Regions from separate parts of the Homo sapiens genome. Here region 2 is linked to region 1. A link means that fine-mapping ties the variant in region 1 to the plasma level of a protein whose gene starts in the linked region. Region 1 holds a variant in brackets. A gene starts in the other region. All regions are shown on their forward strands. Region 1 overlaps KNG1 (kininogen 1). Region 2 holds the start of BCL2L11 (BCL2 like 11).

What was found. A credible set is the group of variants that fine-mapping cannot tell apart. PIP is the posterior inclusion probability: the model's chance that the variant is causal. The UK Biobank Pharma Proteomics Project read protein levels with antibody pairs (Olink). The fine-mapping took linkage between variants from a reference panel, not from the people measured, so its PIPs are less certain.
Region 2: it holds the start of BCL2L11, and the variant in region 1 is the best candidate, but not a certain one, in a credible set for the plasma level of the BCL2L11 protein (UK Biobank, PIP 0.73).

What each region holds. Positions count from the first base shown.
Region 1 is chr3:186,738,009-186,748,531 of GRCh38, forward strand. It overlaps KNG1 (kininogen 1), which reads left to right. Exons shown (of 10, transcript NM_001102416.3): 8 at 1,091-1,198; 9 at 1,320-1,406; 10 at 3,514-6,402. The coding sequence ends at 4,323. Among named protein-coding and RNA genes, the nearest start is that of KNG1, 26 kb to the left of the region's middle. The variant C/T (reference allele first, on the strand shown) is at 5,727.
Region 2 is chr2:111,114,821-111,125,035 of GRCh38, forward strand. BCL2L11 (BCL2 like 11) reads left to right here and starts at 6,094. Exons shown (of 4, transcript NM_138621.5): 1 at 6,094-6,368; 2 at 8,913-9,319. The coding sequence starts at 8,926. ACOXL (acyl-CoA oxidase like) reads left to right here. Exons shown (of 18, transcript NM_001142807.4): 18 at 2,796-3,728. The coding sequence ends at 2,996. ACOXL-AS1 (ACOXL antisense RNA 1) reads right to left here and starts at 768. Exons shown (of 4, transcript NR_122074.1): 1 at 700-768. RefSeq lists enhancers at 5,299-5,378, 6,529-6,648 and silencers at 5,659-6,198, 6,532-6,826, 7,619-8,178.

The DNA of each region.
Region 1 (10,523 bases):
TCTGTCACCCAGGCTGGAGTGCAGTGGCATGACCTCAGCTCACTGCAACCTCCGCCTCCTGGGTTCAGGTAACTCCCCTGCCTCAGCCTGTCAAATAGCTGTCAAATTACAGGTGTGCATCACAAAGCCCATCTAATTTTTATATTTTTAGTAGAGGTGGGGTTTCACCACGTTGGTCAGATTGGTCTTGAACAGCTGGCCTTAAGTGATCCACCCGCCTCAGCCTCCCAAAGTGCTGGAATTGCAGGCATGAACCACCACGCCCAGCCTAAAATAATTTCTTAATATTAAAAATAGTAAGAGAACAATAAAAACCCCAAATAATTTTTCTAATTACAAAATTTAATCCACATAATTTCTATAGTAGTACTAACTCAGTATTTCACCAATTCAAGATTTGGCAGGACAATAAGGCATATTTAAAAACATTTTAAGTTTTTCTTCCTATTCCTGTTAGATTATTAGATATTACAACTTGAGCCCTTGAATTACTAGTGAATTTAACAGCTGTTGGACAATAAAACTCAAATAAATACATAAATAAATAAAAATTATAGGCCAGGCATGGTGGCTCATGCCTGTAATCCCAGCACTTTGGGAGGCCGAGGCAGGTGGATCACCTGAGGTCGGGAGTTCGAGACCAGCCTGACCAACATGGAGAAACCCCATCTCTACTAAAAATATAAAATTAGCCAGGCGTGGAGGTGGGCAACTGTAATCCCAGCTACTCAGGAGGCTGAGGCAGGAGAATTGCTTGAATCCAGGAGGCGGAGGTTGTGGTGAGCCGAGATCGTGCCACTGCACTCCAGCCTGGGCAACAAGAGCGAAACTCCATCTCAAAAAAAAAAAATAAAGAAAATTATAGCTTGCTTATTTCTTCCCCCACTTAGAAAAGGAAATGGGACCAACCGATAGCCAAATATTTTAAATATGCATGCCAAGCTTTAATGCCAAACGTGTACTTTTTTGTATGTAACTCTCTAAGTTGGTCAATTAAAATTTCAAGATTCTCCCTTAACATTTCTTAAAGATAAATGATTTATTATGCAAATATTTTTAAGCGTTTACTTTGTACTAATTAATTTTTCAGGTGGTGGCTGGCAAGAAATATTTTATTGACTTCGTGGCCAGGGAAACCACATGTTCCAAGGAAAGTAATGAAGAGTTGACCGAAAGCTGTGAGACCAAAAAACTTGGCGTGAGTAGTCATGCACCTGTCTACTTTTTCACTGGAAGCCTATTTGATGTTTTTAGAATCATTTGTTTAAATGTCTCGTGAATAACACTGTCTCTCTTTCGACTTCTGTTTTCATGGATAGCAAAGCCTAGATTGCAACGCTGAAGTTTATGTGGTACCCTGGGAGAAAAAAATTTACCCTACTGTCAACTGTCAACCACTGGGAATGGTATGATTCTAATTACAGTCAGCGTGGGGTCAGTTCTGCTCATTCTGAAAATCCATATTTGGGGGCTGAAAATGAACCATTACTGAAATGAATTGGGGAGCTATCTTTTTTAAATGGGGAGTAACTCTCACACTTCTGTGCTGATCTCTGTTTAATGGCTAGAAAGAAGAGTAACAATCCTCCTGATCACTTCTCACACATTGTCAGTGTCTCAGTGAAGCTTCTATAGACTCTCTCCTAGTGCACTGCAGTCCTGCTGTGGGGGAGCAACATTGGCTATGCCAGGTGTACCTGAGGCCAGATACAGCACTCCACTGCATTCTGCTGACATGCAAGGACCATGTGAAAAATGCATGGCTGGGCGCGGTGGCTCACGCCTGTTATCCCAGCACTTTGGGAGGCTGAAGCAGGCAGATCACCTGAGGTCAGGAGTTTGAGACTAGCCTGGCCAACATGGTGAAACCCTGTCTCTACTGAAAATACAACAATTAGCTGGGTGTGGTGGCGCCTGTAATCCCAGCTACTCAGGGGGCTGAGGCAGGAGAATCCCTTGAACCCAGGAGGTGGAGGTTGCAGTGAGCCGAGATCCTGCCACTGCACTCCAGCCTGGGCAACAAAGAGCGAAACTTTGTCTCAAAAAAAAAAAAAGAAAAGAAAAATTCAGACTCGCAAACCCCACTTCACAGCTACCGAATTTTAACCAGATCCCCAGGGGATTCATATGCATGAATCAAGTTTGAAAAGCATTCGTTGATGTCATCTTTCTTTTTTAAGTCTTAAAAGAACTCTGGGAGGTAGTAACACTTTCCCTATTGTCAAGGATGAGACACTAAAAATTAGAAAGACTCTGAGGTCCTGAGTGAATAATGACATTATCAAATGCTTCCTCTGTCCCAGGCACTATACTGAAGGTTTCACCCACATTTTCGAGTCCTCCTTATAACTCTGTGAGGCAGGTGCTGTTATTATTTCTATTTTACAGAAAGGAAAAGTGAAGCTGATGGCACTTGGATTCAAATCTTGGTCAATTCAGAGTCTACCCTTTCCATCACGATGCTGATTACCAGTAGGGTCTGGCCGGACTCCAATGACCATGTTCTTTGCATCACCAGACACTGCTTCCAATTAACACATTCTCACAGGTAGCAAAAGTGTAGGTAGAATTAATCCACAGATCGACATATTTGAAGCAGGTTACCTCTTTTCCCTCTTTTCTGATTTGGTCTTTTGTCATGTGTAGGTATGTAGATGGTGTAACACAAACATTGTCCTCAGGTTGCATTTCAAGCTTGCGAATATGTCCTAATGTGCTTCAGCACAACAAAGTGATCATGGATACATGCTCCCTATATATTCAGTTCATAAAGCCACTTAGGGCCTTTTAGGATAAAAGCAGTGATGGTGGTAATAACAGTAGTATCAATAATTAAATACTGTGCTCAGTAAAAACATAGGCTCAGAAGCTACCCTAGAGATTAGCTAGTTCAACCATCCAGATGAAGCAAAAACACTCCAGCTTATTTTACAGTTTTTTTTGTTGTTGTTTGGCTGGGTTTTTTTGTTTTTTTTTTGTTGTTGTTGTTGTTTGTTTTTTGTTTTTTTTGACAGAGTCACTGTCGCCTAGGCTGGAGTGCAGTGGCGCCATCTCAGCTCACTGCAACCTCCACGTCCTGGGTTCAAGCAATTCTCCTGCCTCAGCCTCCTGAGTAGCTGGGATTACAGGCATGTGCCACCATGCCCAGCTAATTTTTGTATTTTTAGTAGAGATGGGGTTTCAGCATGTTGGCCAGGCTGGTCTCAAACTCCTGACCTCAAGTGATCTGCTCGCCTTGGTCTCCCAAAGTGCTGAGATTACAGGTGTGAGCCACCATGCCTGGCTATTTTATGGTATTATTAACAACAATAATTAATGTCCACAAATTTTAAGATCAATCAAAAGACAAAAAAAATTATTCATCCTTTCTGGAATGTTAATATAGCATTTAAAATCTGGCAAACACCTCCCCCATTGTAAACTAAGATAACATTGCCAGATCTCAGTGTTTTTTTCTATCATCAATAGCATGATTTTTGCAGTAATACATTCATCTTAATATTTTCTGTTTAGATCTCACTGATGAAAAGGCCTCCAGGTTTTTCACCTTTCCGATCATCACGAATAGGGGAAATAAAAGAAGAAACAACTGTAAGTCCACCCCACACTTCCATGGCACCTGCACAAGATGAAGAGCGGGATTCAGGAAAAGAACAAGGGCATACTCGTAGACATGACTGGGGCCATGAAAAACAAAGAAAACATAATCTTGGCCATGGCCATAAACATGAACGTGACCAAGGGCATGGGCACCAAAGAGGACATGGCCTTGGCCATGGACACGAACAACAGCATGGTCTTGGTCATGGACATAAGTTCAAACTTGATGATGATCTTGAACACCAAGGGGGCCATGTCCTTGACCATGGACATAAGCATAAGCATGGTCATGGCCACGGAAAACATAAAAATAAAGGCAAAAAGAATGGAAAGCACAATGGTTGGAAAACAGAGCATTTGGCAAGCTCTTCTGAAGACAGTACTACACCTTCTGCACAGACACAAGAGAAGACAGAAGGGCCAACACCCATCCCTTCCCTAGCCAAGCCAGGTGTAACAGTTACCTTTTCTGACTTTCAGGACTCTGATCTCATTGCAACTATGATGCCTCCTATATCACCAGCTCCCATACAGAGTGATGACGATTGGATCCCTGATATCCAGATAGACCCAAATGGCCTTTCATTTAACCCAATATCAGATTTTCCAGACACGACCTCCCCAAAATGTCCTGGACGCCCCTGGAAGTCAGTTAGTGAAATTAATCCAACCACACAAATGAAAGAATCTTATTATTTCGATCTCACTGATGGCCTTTCTTAATTTAAGTGGCTATGGGTATTTCTTTCATACTTTATTAAAGTATCAATATCCCTCTCTCCATTGTCCAGATGAAAATATCCTGATATAATGCACCAAAAACCATGCAGCTTCGGAACAGTCTAAAGAGAAGTGGTGAGACTCCCAGTGGAGACACCATCAGTCTCCACGGACTGCATAAAATTGTGTGCCACAATTCTAACTCTTTTCTGAATCTTCTTCCCAAGTTTTCTAAACTAGCACAGTAAACAGACAAACTAATGTGCCGTATGGCCTGCTGCAATTGGCTTCTCTGATAACAAATATGTACCTTACAACATATGTCATGAATTTGCATACAAAGATTCTTGTCATTCTTAATAAACTGTGGCACTTGGTATTTGAATGTGTGTGAAAATAAGGGAAGTCAAGAGATTAAATGCTGAACTTATTAATGGAATAGAAATAATAAGGAGGCTGAGGCTGGAGAATTGCTTGAACCCGGGAGGCGGAGGTTGCAGTGAGCCGAGATCGTGCCACTGCGCTCCAGCCTGGGCATCAGAGCAAGATTCTGTCTCAGAAAAAAAGAAAAAAAAAGAAATAATAAGAAAAACTTCCAGATTTCAAAGTAACAAGAAAGAAGACAGGTTGGCCAAAGGGAGGAAAGGGGGGACATAAATTAATTGACTTTCTATTCCCAAAATGGGCTAGTTATATCAAATAAATACTCCCACTGCCCTTTCTGAGTGAGAGTGTTTCTCATAAGTCAAAAATTTCTGTTTACTCATTAACTACTCTTTGCAACAGGCTTTCATATAGAAGTATTCTGTTTATTTTTGCTGAGCCTAGATTGAGTAATTCTTAGTTTACAGAAGCTCCGAGCTTAATGATAAGGATGAAAAGCAGAGGGAGCAATATAGAAGCAGGCTTGCTAATAAAACTTTTTAAATAATTGACAAGGGAATATTATGGAATGTGATGCAAAGTTTGTTCCGAAATTTTATGAGGAAATTACTCTCTAGTCTCACTTTATAGTCTTTTTGCTATGACTTTGAAGACCATTGATTTTTGAGAAGCAGAATAATAGGATTGCCTTTCATTGCCCTATAGTGCAAAGAAGGTATATGCTTTATAACCAATGTTGTACTTTTGCCTAGAAAAACAAGATATGGCTTTAAATAGCTACAATCATCTTTGGATGTATATGTCACTGCTGCTTCAAGTTATTGGATGCATTTGAACCTCTGAGTTTGTCTTTCATTTTAAATATTGTCTGTTCTTTTAAATAAACAACCACAGATGTCAGGAAAAAGTCTTACCTTGTCAACTGGTTGCTCCACTTTTTAAAAATGATTGAATGATAACATCATATTAACTGCGTTTTACTATACTTACAGAGTCACCTAAGGTCCTGCGAGTACAAGGGT[C/T]GACCCCCAAAGGCAGGGGCAGAGCCAGCATCTGAGAGGGAGGTCTCTTGACCAATGGGCAGAATCTTCACTCCAGGCACATAGCCCCAACCACCTCTGCCAGCAACCTTGAGAGGAAGGACAAGAAGAAAGATGGGATAGAATTTAAATAGAGAAGAATGCCATTTTATCACTCTGCCTCTGGGTGAAATAAAGATCAGTCTTGATGTTCTAACTCTAATTCACAGTGGTCTCCTTTCAGCCCTACCCATTCTGCAGCAAATTCCAGCTGGTCAGAGAGTCAGTGCTGTGGCTCTGCCATGGAGGCTCATAACCCAACACTGGAACATTCCCTAGCCAAGGCAGAAGTCCTTAGGCGGGACTTCCTTACCACCACGGGTGCTAAAAGAAGAGTTAGTAGGTCATGCTTCTACCAGTAATCTAAGGACTCTCTCCTTCTCTTCTTCCTCTTTCTCCAGATTTCCAAGCCTTAGCTAAGAGTAATTTGGCTTGTTTAGTATTGTTTTCTTATGGTCCAGTTAATTACCAAAAATATTTTTAAAATCATCTCTGTTAATAGAATGTCTACCAACTTCTCACTATCAGAAAATACTCAACCTCCAAACAATTTGAAATTATCTTTCTGATCCAGGTAAAGAAGCAAATTGAAAATCAATAAAGTAAAAAGTGACGGAGATTTTAAATTTTCTGTAATAAAAACACTTATTGGGTTGGGCATGGTGGCTCACGCCTGTAATCCCAGCACTTTGGGAGGCCGAGGTGGGTGGATGACCTGGCGTCAGGAGTTCGAGACCAGCCTGGCCACATGGCGAAACTCCATGTCTAATAAAAATACAAAATTAGCCGGGCGTGGTGGCACGCACCTGTAATCCCAGCTACTCCAGAGGCTGAGGCAGGAGAATCACTTGAGCCTGAGAGGTGGAGGTTGCAGTGAGCTGAGATTGCACCACTGCATTCCAGGCTGGGTGACAAAATGAAATTCAGTCTCAAAAGAAAAAAAACATTTATCGAACACCTATTACAGCCATTTGCTATGCTAGATAATTTACTTTTGGCATATAACTTAATCCTCACAACCACTCTAAGGCCCCCATGAACATCATTCTTTTACAAGGAAACTGTAGTTCACAGTGCCCTGCCCAGGGTCATATAGTTAATAAGTGGCAGGGCTGGCATTCAGACTTAGACCTTTTGAACTCCATTACACCATGTCATCTGAAGGCTTTATTATTAATGTTGTCATTACAAAAGACACACCAAGTCACTGACTACAGTCACAGAGACCCAATAAATTAAAAAAAAAAAAAGGCATGCCAAGACAATGTCTGACTCTGAGAGGATCCTTGTCTCAATCCAAAATATCCTTATTAAATACCTAATTGTGGCTGGTGCTGTTCTGTGTATTGGTCAGGATAAACTGAGTTAAGCAGCAGTCACTAACTATTTACCATATGCTTCGCATGAGGTCCTGAGAGGAAAAGAAAGAAATTTTAAAAGACATAAATCCTTTCCCTCAAAGATCTTGCAATCCCATTGGCAAGTCAAGATGAAAGCATACGGAACAAAGATTTGATCCAGGCTGCAGTCTTTTGTGCAACAGTGAGTGAATGCAACCAATGTGACTGGAAGAAGTTGACTAGGTAGAGGGATCAGCTGTGAAAGGTAGTATGAAGCCCAGCTGGGAGTCTAGGCTGAAATATGCAGTAGAGTTCCTTCTACAGTCTTTGCCATACTCAGAGGGAGTTTGAGATAGATGATTCTGAAGGTTCTGGGTAGGGTGGATCAGAATGGGAAGAGAATGGAGTCAGGGTTCTGTTCTGGGTATTTCCTGACAATCATGTTTTAGCAGAAAAATAAGGGCTGATATATAAAGCCTATACCTCTCAGCTTACTCAACAACATGAAGTATTTCCACTTCAGGCCTTTGTTAGGTAACATAAACATGAGTTTCCCGTGACCCAGAAACTAACTTTCTTATTTTTTAAATATCTATACCAGCCGGGCGCAGTGGCTTCACGTCTGTAATCCCAGCACTTTGGGAGGCCAAGGCAGGCGGATCACTTGAGGTCAGGAGTGCGAGACCAGCCTGGCCAACATGGCGAAACCCCGTCTCTACTAAAAAATAATTAAAAAAAAAATTAGCTTGGTGTGGCGGTGGGAGCCTGTAATCCCAGCTACTGGGGAGGCTGAGACACGAGAATCGCTTGAACCCGGGAGGTGGAGATTGCAGGGAGCCGAGATCATGCCACTGCACTCCAGCCTGGGCAACAGAGTAAGACTCTGCCTCAAATAAAAAAAAAAAAAAAAAAAAAAAAGACCTAACTACCAAGCCAAAGTCACACCCCAAGTGTCTGGCCCTGGCTCTGGGGCCACACAGCTACATCGCTCCGTGCTTCTCTTCAGGGCAGGCATTTCCTGTCGTCGAGTCCAACGCACATTCCTCACATTGTCTACGCCTAGTTCCTCAAACAGGAGGCCCCTATTGGCTTTTTACTCCACTCTCCACTTCCTGCTTCTAAGCCTGGTTCCAAAGGAGTTAACTCACAGAAAGACACATGCTTTTCGGCCTCACCCCAGTCTGTCTGGCGCCCATGCTCCCCTTCTGCTCATACTCTGTACATTCACCTCGCGGGAAAGCCCAGACTCCCAAGGCTCCTCTGAGAAGATTTGAGAGGATCCAGCAGCTATATTTTAAAACTCACTCTTCCAGAAGCCCAGTGTCTCTCTCTCTATATTAAGATAGATGATCAAAAGCCAAAATGCCACTTCAACATCTTGCAAAAATGCTATGTTAAATTATTTAAGGTTGGCTGGGTGTAGTGGCTCACACCTGTAATCCCAGCACTTTGGGAGGCTGAGGCGGGTGGATCTCCTGAGCTTGGGAGTTCGAGACCAGCCTGACTAACATGGAGAAACCTCGTCTCTGCTAAAAATATAAAATTATCCGAGTGTGGTGGCACATGCCTGTAATCCCAGCTACTCGGAGGCTGAGGCAGGAGAATTGCTTGAACCCGGGAGGCAGAGATTGCGGTGAGCCAAGATCGCACCATTGCGCTCCAGCCTGGACAACAAGAGTGATACTCCATCTCAAAAAACAACAACAAAAAATTATTTAAGTTATACTTTCATCTTTTATTTCATAAGAATTTCCATTTGAACACCATTCTGTCTTTTGCAAAACTTTGAGGTATTGCCCAGTGTATCACATTTGAGGCAGTATAGTGAGGTGGTTAAAAACCAGAGTTCTGTAGTTACAGCCTGAGTCTAAAAACTGCCAATTTGCTTAACTTCCCAGTTTAAATTCTCAAAGTCCCAGTTTCCCCATGCAAAATATTACTTTAATAATGTACTTACCTCATGGGGTGTTATGAGAATTAAAAGAGATAAATTCTTGGCCAGGCACGGTGGCTCACGCCTGTAATCCCAGCATTTTGGCAGGCCGAGGCAGGCGGATCATCTGAGGTCAGGTGTTCGAAACCAGCCTGGCCAACATGGCAAAATCCCGACTTTACCAAAAAATACAAAAAGTAGCTGGGTGTGTGGTGGCGGATGCCTGTAATCCCAGCTACTCGGGAGGCTGAGTCAGGAGAATTGCTTCAAGCTGGGAGGTGGAGCAATTCATACAAAGTACATACAACATACAAAGTAAGAATAGGGCCGGGCATGGTGGCTCATGCCTGTAATCCCAGCACTTTGGGAGGCTGAGGCGGCTGGATCACTTGAGGTCAGGAGTTCGAGACCAGCCTAGCCAACATGGCAAAACCCCGTCTCTGCTAAAAAGCACAAAAATTAGCCAGGCATGGTGACAGGCACCTGTAATCCCAGCTACTTGGGAGGCTGAGGCAAGAGAATCGCTTGAACCCGGGAGGCGGAGGTTGCAGTGAGCCAAGGTCGTGCCAGTGCACTCCAGCCTGGATGACAGAGCAAGACTCCATCTCAAAAAAAAAAAAAAAAGAAAAAGAAAAAGAAAAAGAAAAGCTGCAGTGAGAGATGGATGCAGGGATGCCGAAGGGTTCCAGCCTGTTCTCCCTCGCCCCTCCTTGGCACTCAACATTTCCTCCACTGCTGGCCGTGCTAACCTATAGCCATAGTACACCTAACAGGGCAAGAGTCTTCCAAAGATTTCTCCACTAACTCCCCTGTGCAGTCCCTTGGCAGCTATATGTACCTGTCCAGTTTTCCCTAAAAGCTCTGACTTGTCCAGGAGCACCAATGCTTTTGGAAGGCTAATGAATAACCTTCTTCAGATCCTCCAACTCCCTTTCCCTGGACCTTATTTTCCTAGCTCCTCCCACAATGGCATTAGATTTAGATAAATCTCCTATGCCATAGGATTCACAGTGGTTCTGCTTCCTTGATGAAACCTTGACTGATGCACCAGCCTTTTTTTTCACCCTATCAATTTGTTACCAAAACACCAAGGGTTAGGTCTAGGCTCTGCTGCTTGCCACACAGAAAGCCAATCACTGACACGAGTGTTGCCAGTTAAGAAGGCTTTAATTGGGTGCTGCAGCCAAGGAGATGGGAGATCAGTCTCAAATCCATCTCCCTGACTGGCTAAAATTAGGGGATTATATAGCAGGGAAGAAATGTAACTACATACAGGAAAACAGGAATTAGGGAGGGGTAAGGAAGAGGAGCTGTTCAACAGGAAGCAGGTAGCCACTTAGGCAACCATGGTAGGTGAGGAGTCTGATGTCTTATTGCCTAGATGCAGTGATCTGGTAAGTTTCAGTTTATTGACACTATCTAGGAAGCCTGATGGTTGGATGCCTGAGAAAGAAACTGAGCAAAGAC
Region 2 (10,215 bases), not on the chromosome of region 1:
ACTGCAACTAGATGGAGGTGGGAAGCCAAACTGATGTTACAATTTTTCCCTCACTCCCAAATATACATATTAATATAGTCAAACACAGTGTCATCCCTTGAGGGCTGAGTGCTTCTGCTTTCTTTAAAGCAGATATTCTCAAATTCCACTCACTGGCTATTTCCAGTGGACTGTACATTCTTATTGCTTGTAGAGCAATAGTGCCCATGTTTAGGTTTGACCTTAAAAAATGTTTTTGCAAGAACCTATAACTTGTTCATACTTTTTTATTTTTAAAGTATACCTATTCATTTGTCTTTTTCAAAAGCTGGTGAATTTTCTTTGTAAAGATATGGGTAAGCTTGAAGTACTTTGTCCAGCATAAATGGGTCATAAACTGGCAGGGCAGAGGACCCCTACACTATGTGCAATTTTTATGCTTATAGTATGGAAGCATGTTTGGTAACAAAACTAAACTTTAATAATACACTGCTTAGCCCCATATAAAAATACCCCCTGGTAATAAAAATACTGTAACTGTGTAATAATCAATGCTATATTATCTTCTCAAGTTTATTTTGTATTAAAGAGATCATATATTTTTAAAAATTTTTAAAACGCCTCAACAGCTTCACGATGTGAGACCTGTTCCTGTAGTGTGTACCATTAAACCTCTAAAGTCCAGAATTGTACCTAACACTGGGTAGGAATCCAGCATACCATTTGTGAGTGAAAGGATGGTAATTATTATTATCATCTTGACAGCCAGGAACAGAGGTGGGTGGGTACCTGGAATCAGAGTCAAACAATAACTAAGAGTCAAACAATAACTAACAGGAATGATGCCGGATCCGTCCATTGAGACAATAATCATTCTGAGGTTTCTGTTGCAGTCTAGGAAAAATGGAGAAGGCTAGAAGGAGTATTTTAAACTGCTCCAGAACTTTAGATTTAGAAAGAATCTTGGCAGTCAACTCCTCTTCACAGCCAGTTCATTTTTCTTCTCTAGGGTGCCATTGGAGGGCACACTCCCTGAACACTTATGAGTGAAGAAACCCTCCTTTTCACCAGCCATTGGGTTCCTTTTCAAGTTTATTTTTTTAAAATTTTCTTTATATTGAAATCTGCCTCATTTAATTCCTACCTCTGGCCCTACGTTCTGTTTTTGGCACCAGATAGATAAAACCCATACTCTATTTTACACTCATTCAAATCATTGTATTTCCCCCACCGGTGAATATATTACCAAAGTTGGTTGAGTTTCATAATGCAAACCCAAAGGGAAAATTATCTTGAATAATCATATGACAATATGTGGAAAGTTTAGGGGCTGTGTACGCCACCTCATGGTTTTGAACTGTGTGGTTAAAGACGTTGAGAGTTGACAGATTAGTCAGGGATTTTTCAAGAGTATTAATTACAAACTTTGAAATCTTGGTCAGTGAAAGTTCATTTTAGTGCATCTTGCAAATACGATCAAAGGTCTTTTCAGTACTGATTTGATGATGCTTAACCACAGTGTGTGAAGAATGAAGTTTTTCATTAGAAATTACTGGTGTAATAGAGCACATTTTCAGGGAAGATGTATTGTTGGACTATTACAATTCATGCTCTTCCCCCACCATATCCCTACCCTCTATATTCCCCATCCCCTATTTCCTCCACCTTCCTCCTTGGGACCTCACTGAAAACCTGAAATGCTCTGAAAACCTGAAATGGCGTTTTGGACTGCTGCAAGGGAAACTGTGATCTTAACAACATCAGTGCGGCTCAGACATGACCACCATGTGAGGGCAAAGGTGGGGCTGGTGTAAGTGATGTTGTTAAACCTGTAAAAATAAACCATGAAAACCTGGGGATTTACTGTGATTTGGGGAGTGAAACAAATTTACCACTGGCCGAAAACTTGAAAAATGGAGTACAATGTGTAGATCAGAAGAAAAGAAAGCCGTCCCTCTGCCCTTGTGTAGTTTTAGAAAAACAATCTTATTAGTTTGGTAGCTTTTTTTCCTGAAAATAAAAAAAAAAATACATTGGCACCTAAGCCATGGAAAATGAAATAAAAATACACCAGTGCAGCTTCCAAAACACTGACTTGCATCTCCCTCTCCTATCCGCCGGGAATGTCTTATCCCTGCCTTCCAGTGGCTGCCAGAACCAAGGGCATCCGCGGCGTTCCTTGGCATTGGCGTTAACAGCAGATGGATTTTCCGCAGCGGCCAGGCGGAAGATGCCTAGCATTGGTCCGCCGTCTCACTGTACTGAATTTCAAGAATCATGGCCTACTGCCAGCCAGGTCAGGACCGAAGGCGCTAGTCTGGGGAGACTGGAGCAGGTCTCTAGTGGTTCACCTGTTCGGAGGCTCTTCCTGTTCAGTTCCCTCTGCGCGCCAGAGGGTGGCACCCCAGGCACTCCAGAGGTGGAGAGGAGGGGACGACAGGGGAGGCAAAGAGAGAGGAGCGGAGGGAAGGACCAGGGAGGAAGGACCAAGGAGGGAGCTTTAATAAATTCTCAGACCTTGGTCTCGAGTTCCCGGCTAATTTGGGGGCAAAGCCGACCGACCCCACGTCCACGCCCACCCCCTTACGGGAAAAGCCGGGGTTTCCACTGGGCTAGGTGTCAGAGTTGGGAATGTCTAAAACAAAAAAGGCTTCCGAGGGTTATTCATGGCCAACAGTTTCCACAGGAGAATCCAAAGGGAAACTAGTTTCCGGGGCCGCTGTGTGTGCGGGTGCTTGGTGGGCTGAAAGCTGCTGTCACTAGATGGCTGTAAGTGTGCCAACATCTGACCTGTCCCATTGTGTTGTGTTTTGCAGTTGCTGGATTTGTGCGACTCGGTGAAGGATGATGCCCGGAGGGTGATCTCGACCTTTAACATTCCACACACCTACCTCCACGCACCAATCGCCGGAATCTCCAACCCGCGGGCCGCGTGGGCTTTCTACCCTGCACCGCTGCAGCCGCGGCCACGGGAAGAGGCGCGCTCCCGGCGGCCCAAGCTGGGAGCCAAGCTCTAACGGGTGTGGCGGGAAGTGTGGTGGCCCGCCAGCAGCTGCCACGACGCTCGCTCCACCGACGCCCAGAGCTGTGGCCGAGGCCGGGGGCTGGCACCCGCTGGGCCGCCACTCTCGGGGATTTTGGTGGCAAAGCGGAGGTCCCGCCGAGGCTGGCGAGGTGCGCGGCTGGCTGCTAGGAAAGAGATCCAGACGGTCGCCTGGTGCGCTGGATCCCTGTGCCCTTTCCCTGAAACCCAGCCTGGCCTGACTGCAACCTCTCCCAACTTCAGTGCCGGATCCCCTAGACAATCAGGGTGGGCTCCCCGCTGCGAGCGCGCCCCACAGCCGGGTGCCGCCAAAGGTCTCCTGCTGTTAGCGGTGACTCACATTCCCAGTGATTTAGAAAAACTGTGGTGCCGAGTGAAAGAAAAAAAAAAAAGCAAACACCCTTAGACAAAAGAAAAAAGCTCCACTCTTTCCGCGAGCGGGAAAAAAGGTTTGGTTCAGCAAGTGATGCTATTTCAGTGAATCAGACGCTCTGGGGCTCTGCAAGGAAACGCACGGACTGGGAGAAGGAAGTGGGAGCCTAGAGTTTTGCTCTCGGCAAAACAAGAACTCGGCTTGTCCTCCCAGGCCGGCGGTTTCCGTACGGCAAGACAAGGCGCGGAAAACATTTTTACCATCTGACGCTGTAGTCTGTCCTTTAGAAGAGAATAGGTGAAAAGTTTAATAAAGAAATTAAGCGATGTGGAAGTCGTTCCCGCTGCTTGCAGAGGGTGGGGAGGCGGGCCTGGGCAATTTCGGAACTAGGAGAGACCACGTCGGCAAAGCCTGTGGTCCCGAACAAGGGCCATGGATTTCCCATTTCTCAGATCCCGGCTGCCCGACTTCATTCTTGTTTCTTTCAGCACAAGCCATCCTCCCTTCTCCCTCCCTCCACGTCTCTTGGCAGAGACAGAAAGGGACACCGCTCTGCCCGCGTCCAGCGCGAAGGAGGTGACCTAAAACCCATGGGCCCTTCTCACACTGCGTTCTCTGCGCTCCGGCCCAGTTCCGGGAGGACCTCCCGACGGCGCGGGAGAAGGCTGTAAGGGCTCTTGGCCCCCGACGCGGCCTGGGTCTCGGGGGACGCATGAACCCGCCACCTCTGGCCGGCTTCCTTTTAGTGCCCCAAATAGCAGCGCTTAGCCCGTTGCTTCCCCCGACTCTTGTTTTTCAAAGTGTTCACAGGGTCGCGAGAGCGAGCGACGCGGGGGCGGCGAGGCTGCAAGGCTGCACAGGAACAGACGACAAGAAATAGGGCTTTCTTCTGCGTGGTTCTTTTCCGGTCCCTGTCTGAGTCGCCCGACCCCGCGGGGAGCGCGGAGCATTGCGGCGTGCGGCGGGCTTCGGGCTCTCAGCCCGCGCAGCAAGTTGTGTTGCTTTTCCCCGGGTGCGACGCGGGACGGCCGCGAAGAGCAAAGTTCGTCCGCGGTAGGAACTTCGAGGCCCGGTTAGGACCGATCTCCGGCCTCCGAGTCTACTTAGCCGTGTCCACGCTCGTGCCTTTTCCCTCTTGCAGCGAAATAACTGGGCGGGGCCCGACGCGCGTCCTCCAGCGACTCCGGGAACCCAAGGCCTCCTTCACCTCGCTCAAAATTCACCCGAAAATGCGCTGAGACTTTGGCATGGGGCTGCGCTGTGTCCCACTGACGTTACAGAAGCGCTTATGAATTTAAAAACTGCTCCAGGCGGCCGGACGGCGGGACAACGCCTCCTCACTTGCTCCTCTACGGCAAGGCCCCTTCCTTCTCCCTGCCGGCTGCGGTGGTGTGTAGGGTGGTCCCTTTACAGAGTTTCCTTAATCCATCTAGCCTGACCTCACCTGCGGGATGTTCCATTTCCCGATCCACCTCCCACACCCCCGCTGCAGTTGTCTAGAAGCTGGGGCTGGGGAACTGAGGCGCGGGAGGAGCAGACAGGAGGGCCGGGGTTGGGGCGCCAGCCACGCGTTGGGAGAGCAGACCCGGGTGCAGACTCAGAGGACTGGAGAGGCGGCATGGAGTTTGGTCTCCTGGGAGGTAGAGTGAGGTGCTGCGGACTCCAGGGAGGAAAGGGATGGGTGGGGAGGCGGGAGGGGAGGAGGGACGGGGTATTTTGCGCTCCCGCACCGCGGCCCGAACTCAGCTGTTCTGCCTTCACTGGCCTCAGCCAGTCGAGGGAGCTCCTACGAGGTTATCTGCGAGCCCAGCAAATCTTGGGGGTCCTAGCCAAATGCAGTGCGCAACGTTCTCTCTCACTTGGAGGCCGCCATTCACCTCGTTTTTTTTTTTCCTAAAAGGATTTTTTTTTCTGAGTGCTTTTTTCATTTCCCTATTTTACCTGCTTTGCACATGCCTCCCGCCCTCACCCGGGAGGCGGCGAAGACGCCCACTGGGACCGCGCCTGGCCGTTTTCTGGGCGCGTCCTGCCCCCACGGCCTCTGTCTCTTAGGGCGACTGGGCGCGGAAGAAAAGCTGGAGAGCCCCTGCGGGGTGGCAGGAGGAGGGTGCCTGAGTCCCGCGAGAGGCCCGGGCGAGGAAGATGCGCAGCCTGCTGATCCGCGTCCCGCCCGGCGCCAGGGACCCTCAGAGGGAGGAGAGCTCAAAGACCTCGCCCCGCGCCTTCGCGAGGACCAACCCAGTCCCCGCGCCTGCCCCAGAGCGGCTTAGAAACTCAGGGCACAGTGAGAGCGCAGGGCGCCTCCCGAGGCTTCACACCGCCGGCCGGGCCAGCGGAGGCTGTGACCGGAGCGCCCCCTCTGTGCCGCGCACGCCGCGGCCGCCGCCGGGTTGGGGTAGGTGAGCGGGAGGCTAGGGTACACTTCGGGGTGGGGGATGGGCGCGCACATGGCCGCCAGCAGGCAGAGTTACTCCGGTAAACACGCCAGGGACGGCGGCGCGCGCGGGAGGCAACCCAGCGGGGCAACCCCCGCCTTTACCTGTCCGAGCCTGCACGCGCCGGCGGCCGCGGCGCCGAGGGGGGCGGAGCTTGCCAGCCCGCGCGCCGGGGCGGGACCTAGCGGGGGCGGGGTCCGCAGTGATTGGGCGTAGGAGCGGGGCCGCCAGCCAGAGCTGGGCTGCAGGGCCGCGCAGGTTTCACTTCGCTCCGCGCAGCCGCCTGGTCTGCAGTTTGTTGGAGCTCTGCGTCCAGCGCCGCTGCCGCTGCCGCCGCCGCCGCCGCCGCCGCCGCCGCCGCCGCCGCCGCCACTACCACCACTTGATTCTTGCAGCCACCCTGCGAACCCTGCCACACTGCGATCGCATCATCGCGGTATTCGGTTCGCTGCGTTCCCGCCGCCACCGCCTCGGCGCCCTTTCTTGGCCCTTGTTCCCCCAAATGTCTGACTCTGACTCTCGGACTGAGAAACGCAAGGTAAATACCTCCAAATCCCGGGGCGCGGGCCTGGCACCGAAGGAAGACTAGCGCTGGAGCCCGAACGGCACCACCTACTGCCCGCTTCCCGTGCACGTGCGAGCGGAGACGCTTGCATCGGCGCCGCTTGTCGCCGGCGGGAGGTGGGGATCCGTGTGGATCGGGTTCCCTCTCGGGCAGGTTCTCTTTAAAGAAAAGTCGTTCACGCGGAACCTGCAGGCTCTTGGCCGAAGTGCGGCTTGGGACGGGATGCTGCGCGCGGGCCTGGTGAAGGGTCGTAGGTCCGGGCAGGAGGAGAGGCAGCGCGTGCCTTTCGGCGCCGGCCCGGGAGCTGAGGACCTGCTCGTAGTATCGGGCTGTGCGCCCAGCTGGAAAGTCTCGCCGCCGGCTCCGGCGCCCTCAGAGTAGCGGCCGCGCAGTGTGAGGGTGTTTCGTGTCTTGGTTTTTTGGGGCGCGTGGGCCTGTTGCGGAGGATTTGCGGAACTGCGGTGGTGATTTAACTGACGAGACACGGCTTTTCCTTTTACTCATTCAGGCCAAGGTTTCGGGGCCACTGCTGCGTTCGCTTTCTCAAGCGTACCTGGGGCCCCTGCTTGCTCTGCAGGAGTCCTGCGGCCTGTGCCATCCGCACGATTCCCTGGCAGCGAGAAATCTAGGTCCTCCCCTGACCACCTGGACCGCGCAGGGGACTAGTCGCGGCCGGCAGAACCTGCTCGGTCCCTGGGCCGGGCTATCTTAGCGGCTCACGCATGCCCGAGCACACCCGACCCGGTTCGCGGTGCAGGCTGGCGGCGCCGTGCCCTCTGGGACCTGTTGCCCCAGGGTTGGCGCTGCTGGTGGAGGGCCCGACGGACGCCAGGGCGGAGGGTGTGAATTTACTCGATGGTCGCGGACGTGCGCGTCCGCGGCCAGGGGTGGCTCTTCGGCTTTGACTCGTGTCTGCGGCGCACCAGGAGAGAGAGGAAGTTGTTGGAGGAGAATAGTTGCCACAGCCAGGGCGGTGACGGCCGTTAGGGTCTGCCCCCGACGGGCCAAAACAAGGACAAGTGGCGAGGACTGGGCCTGGGGATGGCCCTGCGGGTCCGGGCGCGGCGCAAGTCCTGCTTTGTCTCCAGGTGACTGGCTGTCCAGGACGGCGGGAGCTGCTAAGGCTTGTGTCCGGAAGGAGCACAGGGATGGGCAGGGTGGCCGGGCCAGCCGGCCCTCAAATCCTCCGACGAAGCGGCAGCCGCCACGACCACGGCCAGAGCAGCGCTCGGAGGCGAGTTTGTCAACAATCGCCTCGCCTTTGGCGGCCTGACCCGTAGGCGCCGCCCCCACCGCGGCTGCCGATTGGCTGCGGCGCGGAGCGACCGCGCGCGGACCAATTGGGAACGCGGGCACCCGGCGCCAGCGGCGCGGGGAGGTCGGCGGTGCCGGCGGCGGCGGGCGCAGAGCGCGAGGGGAGGAGCGGGAGGAGGCGGAGGATGTTCCCGGCGGCTGCGGCCGGGGCAGCGCGGGCCAGAGGCGCGGCGTGCGGAGCCCTCGGCTGCCCGGCGGAGCGCGGCGGCGGGCTGGCGGGAAGGCGCGGGCTTTGCGCTGCGCCGGGGACTCTGAACCCGAGTCCCGGGCTTTGTCTCCTGCGCTGCTTTCGTGGTGACGGTCAGGGGGCGCCCGGTCGGCGAAGGGCGCGGGCCGGACGCCGCGGGGCTTGGTCCCTGGCCCGGACGCTGCGCTCTGAAGGGAAGGCGCGGACGTGAGTTTCGGTGTGATTGCCTTCTGAGGGGAGGGTCTGTGGGATGAAGGCGGCGCGGCGCGCACCGGTGTCGCCTAGCCTGCGGACCTAGTTGTAGACCTTGCAGGCGTTCGCTTCGTCGCCCTCCGCCGCCCCCTCCCCATTTAGAGATGTGCACCTCACGGTGTGCACCTCAGAGAAGTTCTGTCTGATTCGGTGCGGCGTGCGGTACGGGAGCGGGAGGGAGGGAGCACGGGCGGAGAGAGCGCCAGAGCCGGGCCGAGCCGCGCTGGAGTTACAAACTCTATTGTGACGCACTTACTACGACTGACGGCCGCTGCCAGACCTTCCCCAGACTTGCTGCCCTCAGCATTTTCGGCAAACAATGGGGCCGGAGCAGGGAACGCGGCCAGCCGCCTGCAATCGCTGCATCTGCGCCCGCTCCTGTGCTCCGGCGTCCTACCTAACCCCGGGAAGTCAGAGCCGCTGGGAGTTTCTGACTTACTCGAAGAAGTCTGTCCTGGGCAAAGAGCACACACGAATAGACTTCAGATTAGCTGCTTCTCTGGAAACGCATGTGTGTGTGCACCAGTTCCGCAAGCTGTTGACATTGTTACTGTATTTTGTTTGGGGGTACCCTCTACCAAAAAAAAATTACACCTTTATTATTTTAGGTGCAATTTTTTTATTTGGGAGATTGTCAGAAAAGTATAGAACAAAGTATTTGGGATTAACCCTAAGAATTTTTAATCGCTAGGTGAGAGCTAATTTGTTTATTCATCGATTTTTTTTTTTGCTTAAAATAATCTTAGTTTTTATTTTACTTGCAGAAAAAAAGACCAAATGGCAAAGCAACCTTCTGATGTAAGTTCTGAGTGTGACCGAGAAGGTAGACAATTGCAGCCTGCGGAGAGGCCTCCCCAGCTCAGACCTGGGGCCCCTACCTCCCTACAGACAGAGCCACAAGGTAATCCTGAAGGCAATCACGGAGGTGAAGGGGACAGCTGCCCCCACGGCAGCCCTCAGGGCCCGCTGGCCCCACCTGCCAGCCCTGGCCCTTTTGCTACCAGATCCCCGCTTTTCATCTTTATGAGAAGATCCTCCCTGCTGTCTCGATCCTCCAGTGGGTATTTCTCTTTTGACACAGACAGGAGCCCAGCACCCATGAGTTGTGACAAATCAACACAAACCCCAAGTCCTCCTTGCCAGGCCTTCAACCACTATCTCAGTGCAATGGGTAAGCAATGCCTGGGTAAGAGGCAGTTGACGTGTGGATGGTTGAATCTGCTTGAAGGCTGTGTGTGGCATTTAAAATCCCCTTTTAAAACCCCGTAACTGATTTATTCCATCTTTAGATGGGAATGGAGGATGTGTCAAACTATCAAACCAACTTTTTTTTTTTTTTTTGAGATGAGTCTTGCTCTGTCGCCCAGGCTGGAGTGCAGTGGTGCAATCTCAGCTCACCGCAAGCTCCACCTCCCGGGTTCAAGCAATTCTCCTACCTCAGCCTCCAGAGTAGCTGGGACTACAGGCGCGTGCCACCACGCCCAGCTAATTTTTTCTATTTTTGGTAGAGATGGGGTTTCACCGTGTTAGCCAGGATGGTCTCAATCTCCTGACCTTGTAATCTGCCTGTCTCAGCCTCCCAAAGTGCTGGGATTACAGGCGTGAGCCACCGCGCATGGCCCACATCAACATTTTTACAAAGTTACTAACTTTTGTGGCAGTGATGAGTTGAGGTCCAAACATTAGCTTTCAGGTCTGTCTTCATTAAGCTAAAGTGTGTTTTAACCACCAGGCTTTACATAGTAATGACATTTTGCTTGAAAGGGAACTGATCATTTACAGAAAATAGCTTAATAATCAAAAGTGTAAAGAAAGATGACAATCATTTTTGAAAATAACACTTTTAAAAAAATGAACTAGTTCATGAAAGCAGTACCAACATAGAACCATGAAAATGGTTTGTTTTCTGCCTAAATTCCTCTTTGTGCTTATTGCTCAGAGGGTTTGGACATAGTACTAATCAGATTAGGTTGTAGGTTTTTATTTCAGGGATTAAAGGCAGTAGTAGGGTTTGAACCAAGAGTGGCTAACATAAATACCACAGAGGCCCACAGCAAAATCATGGAA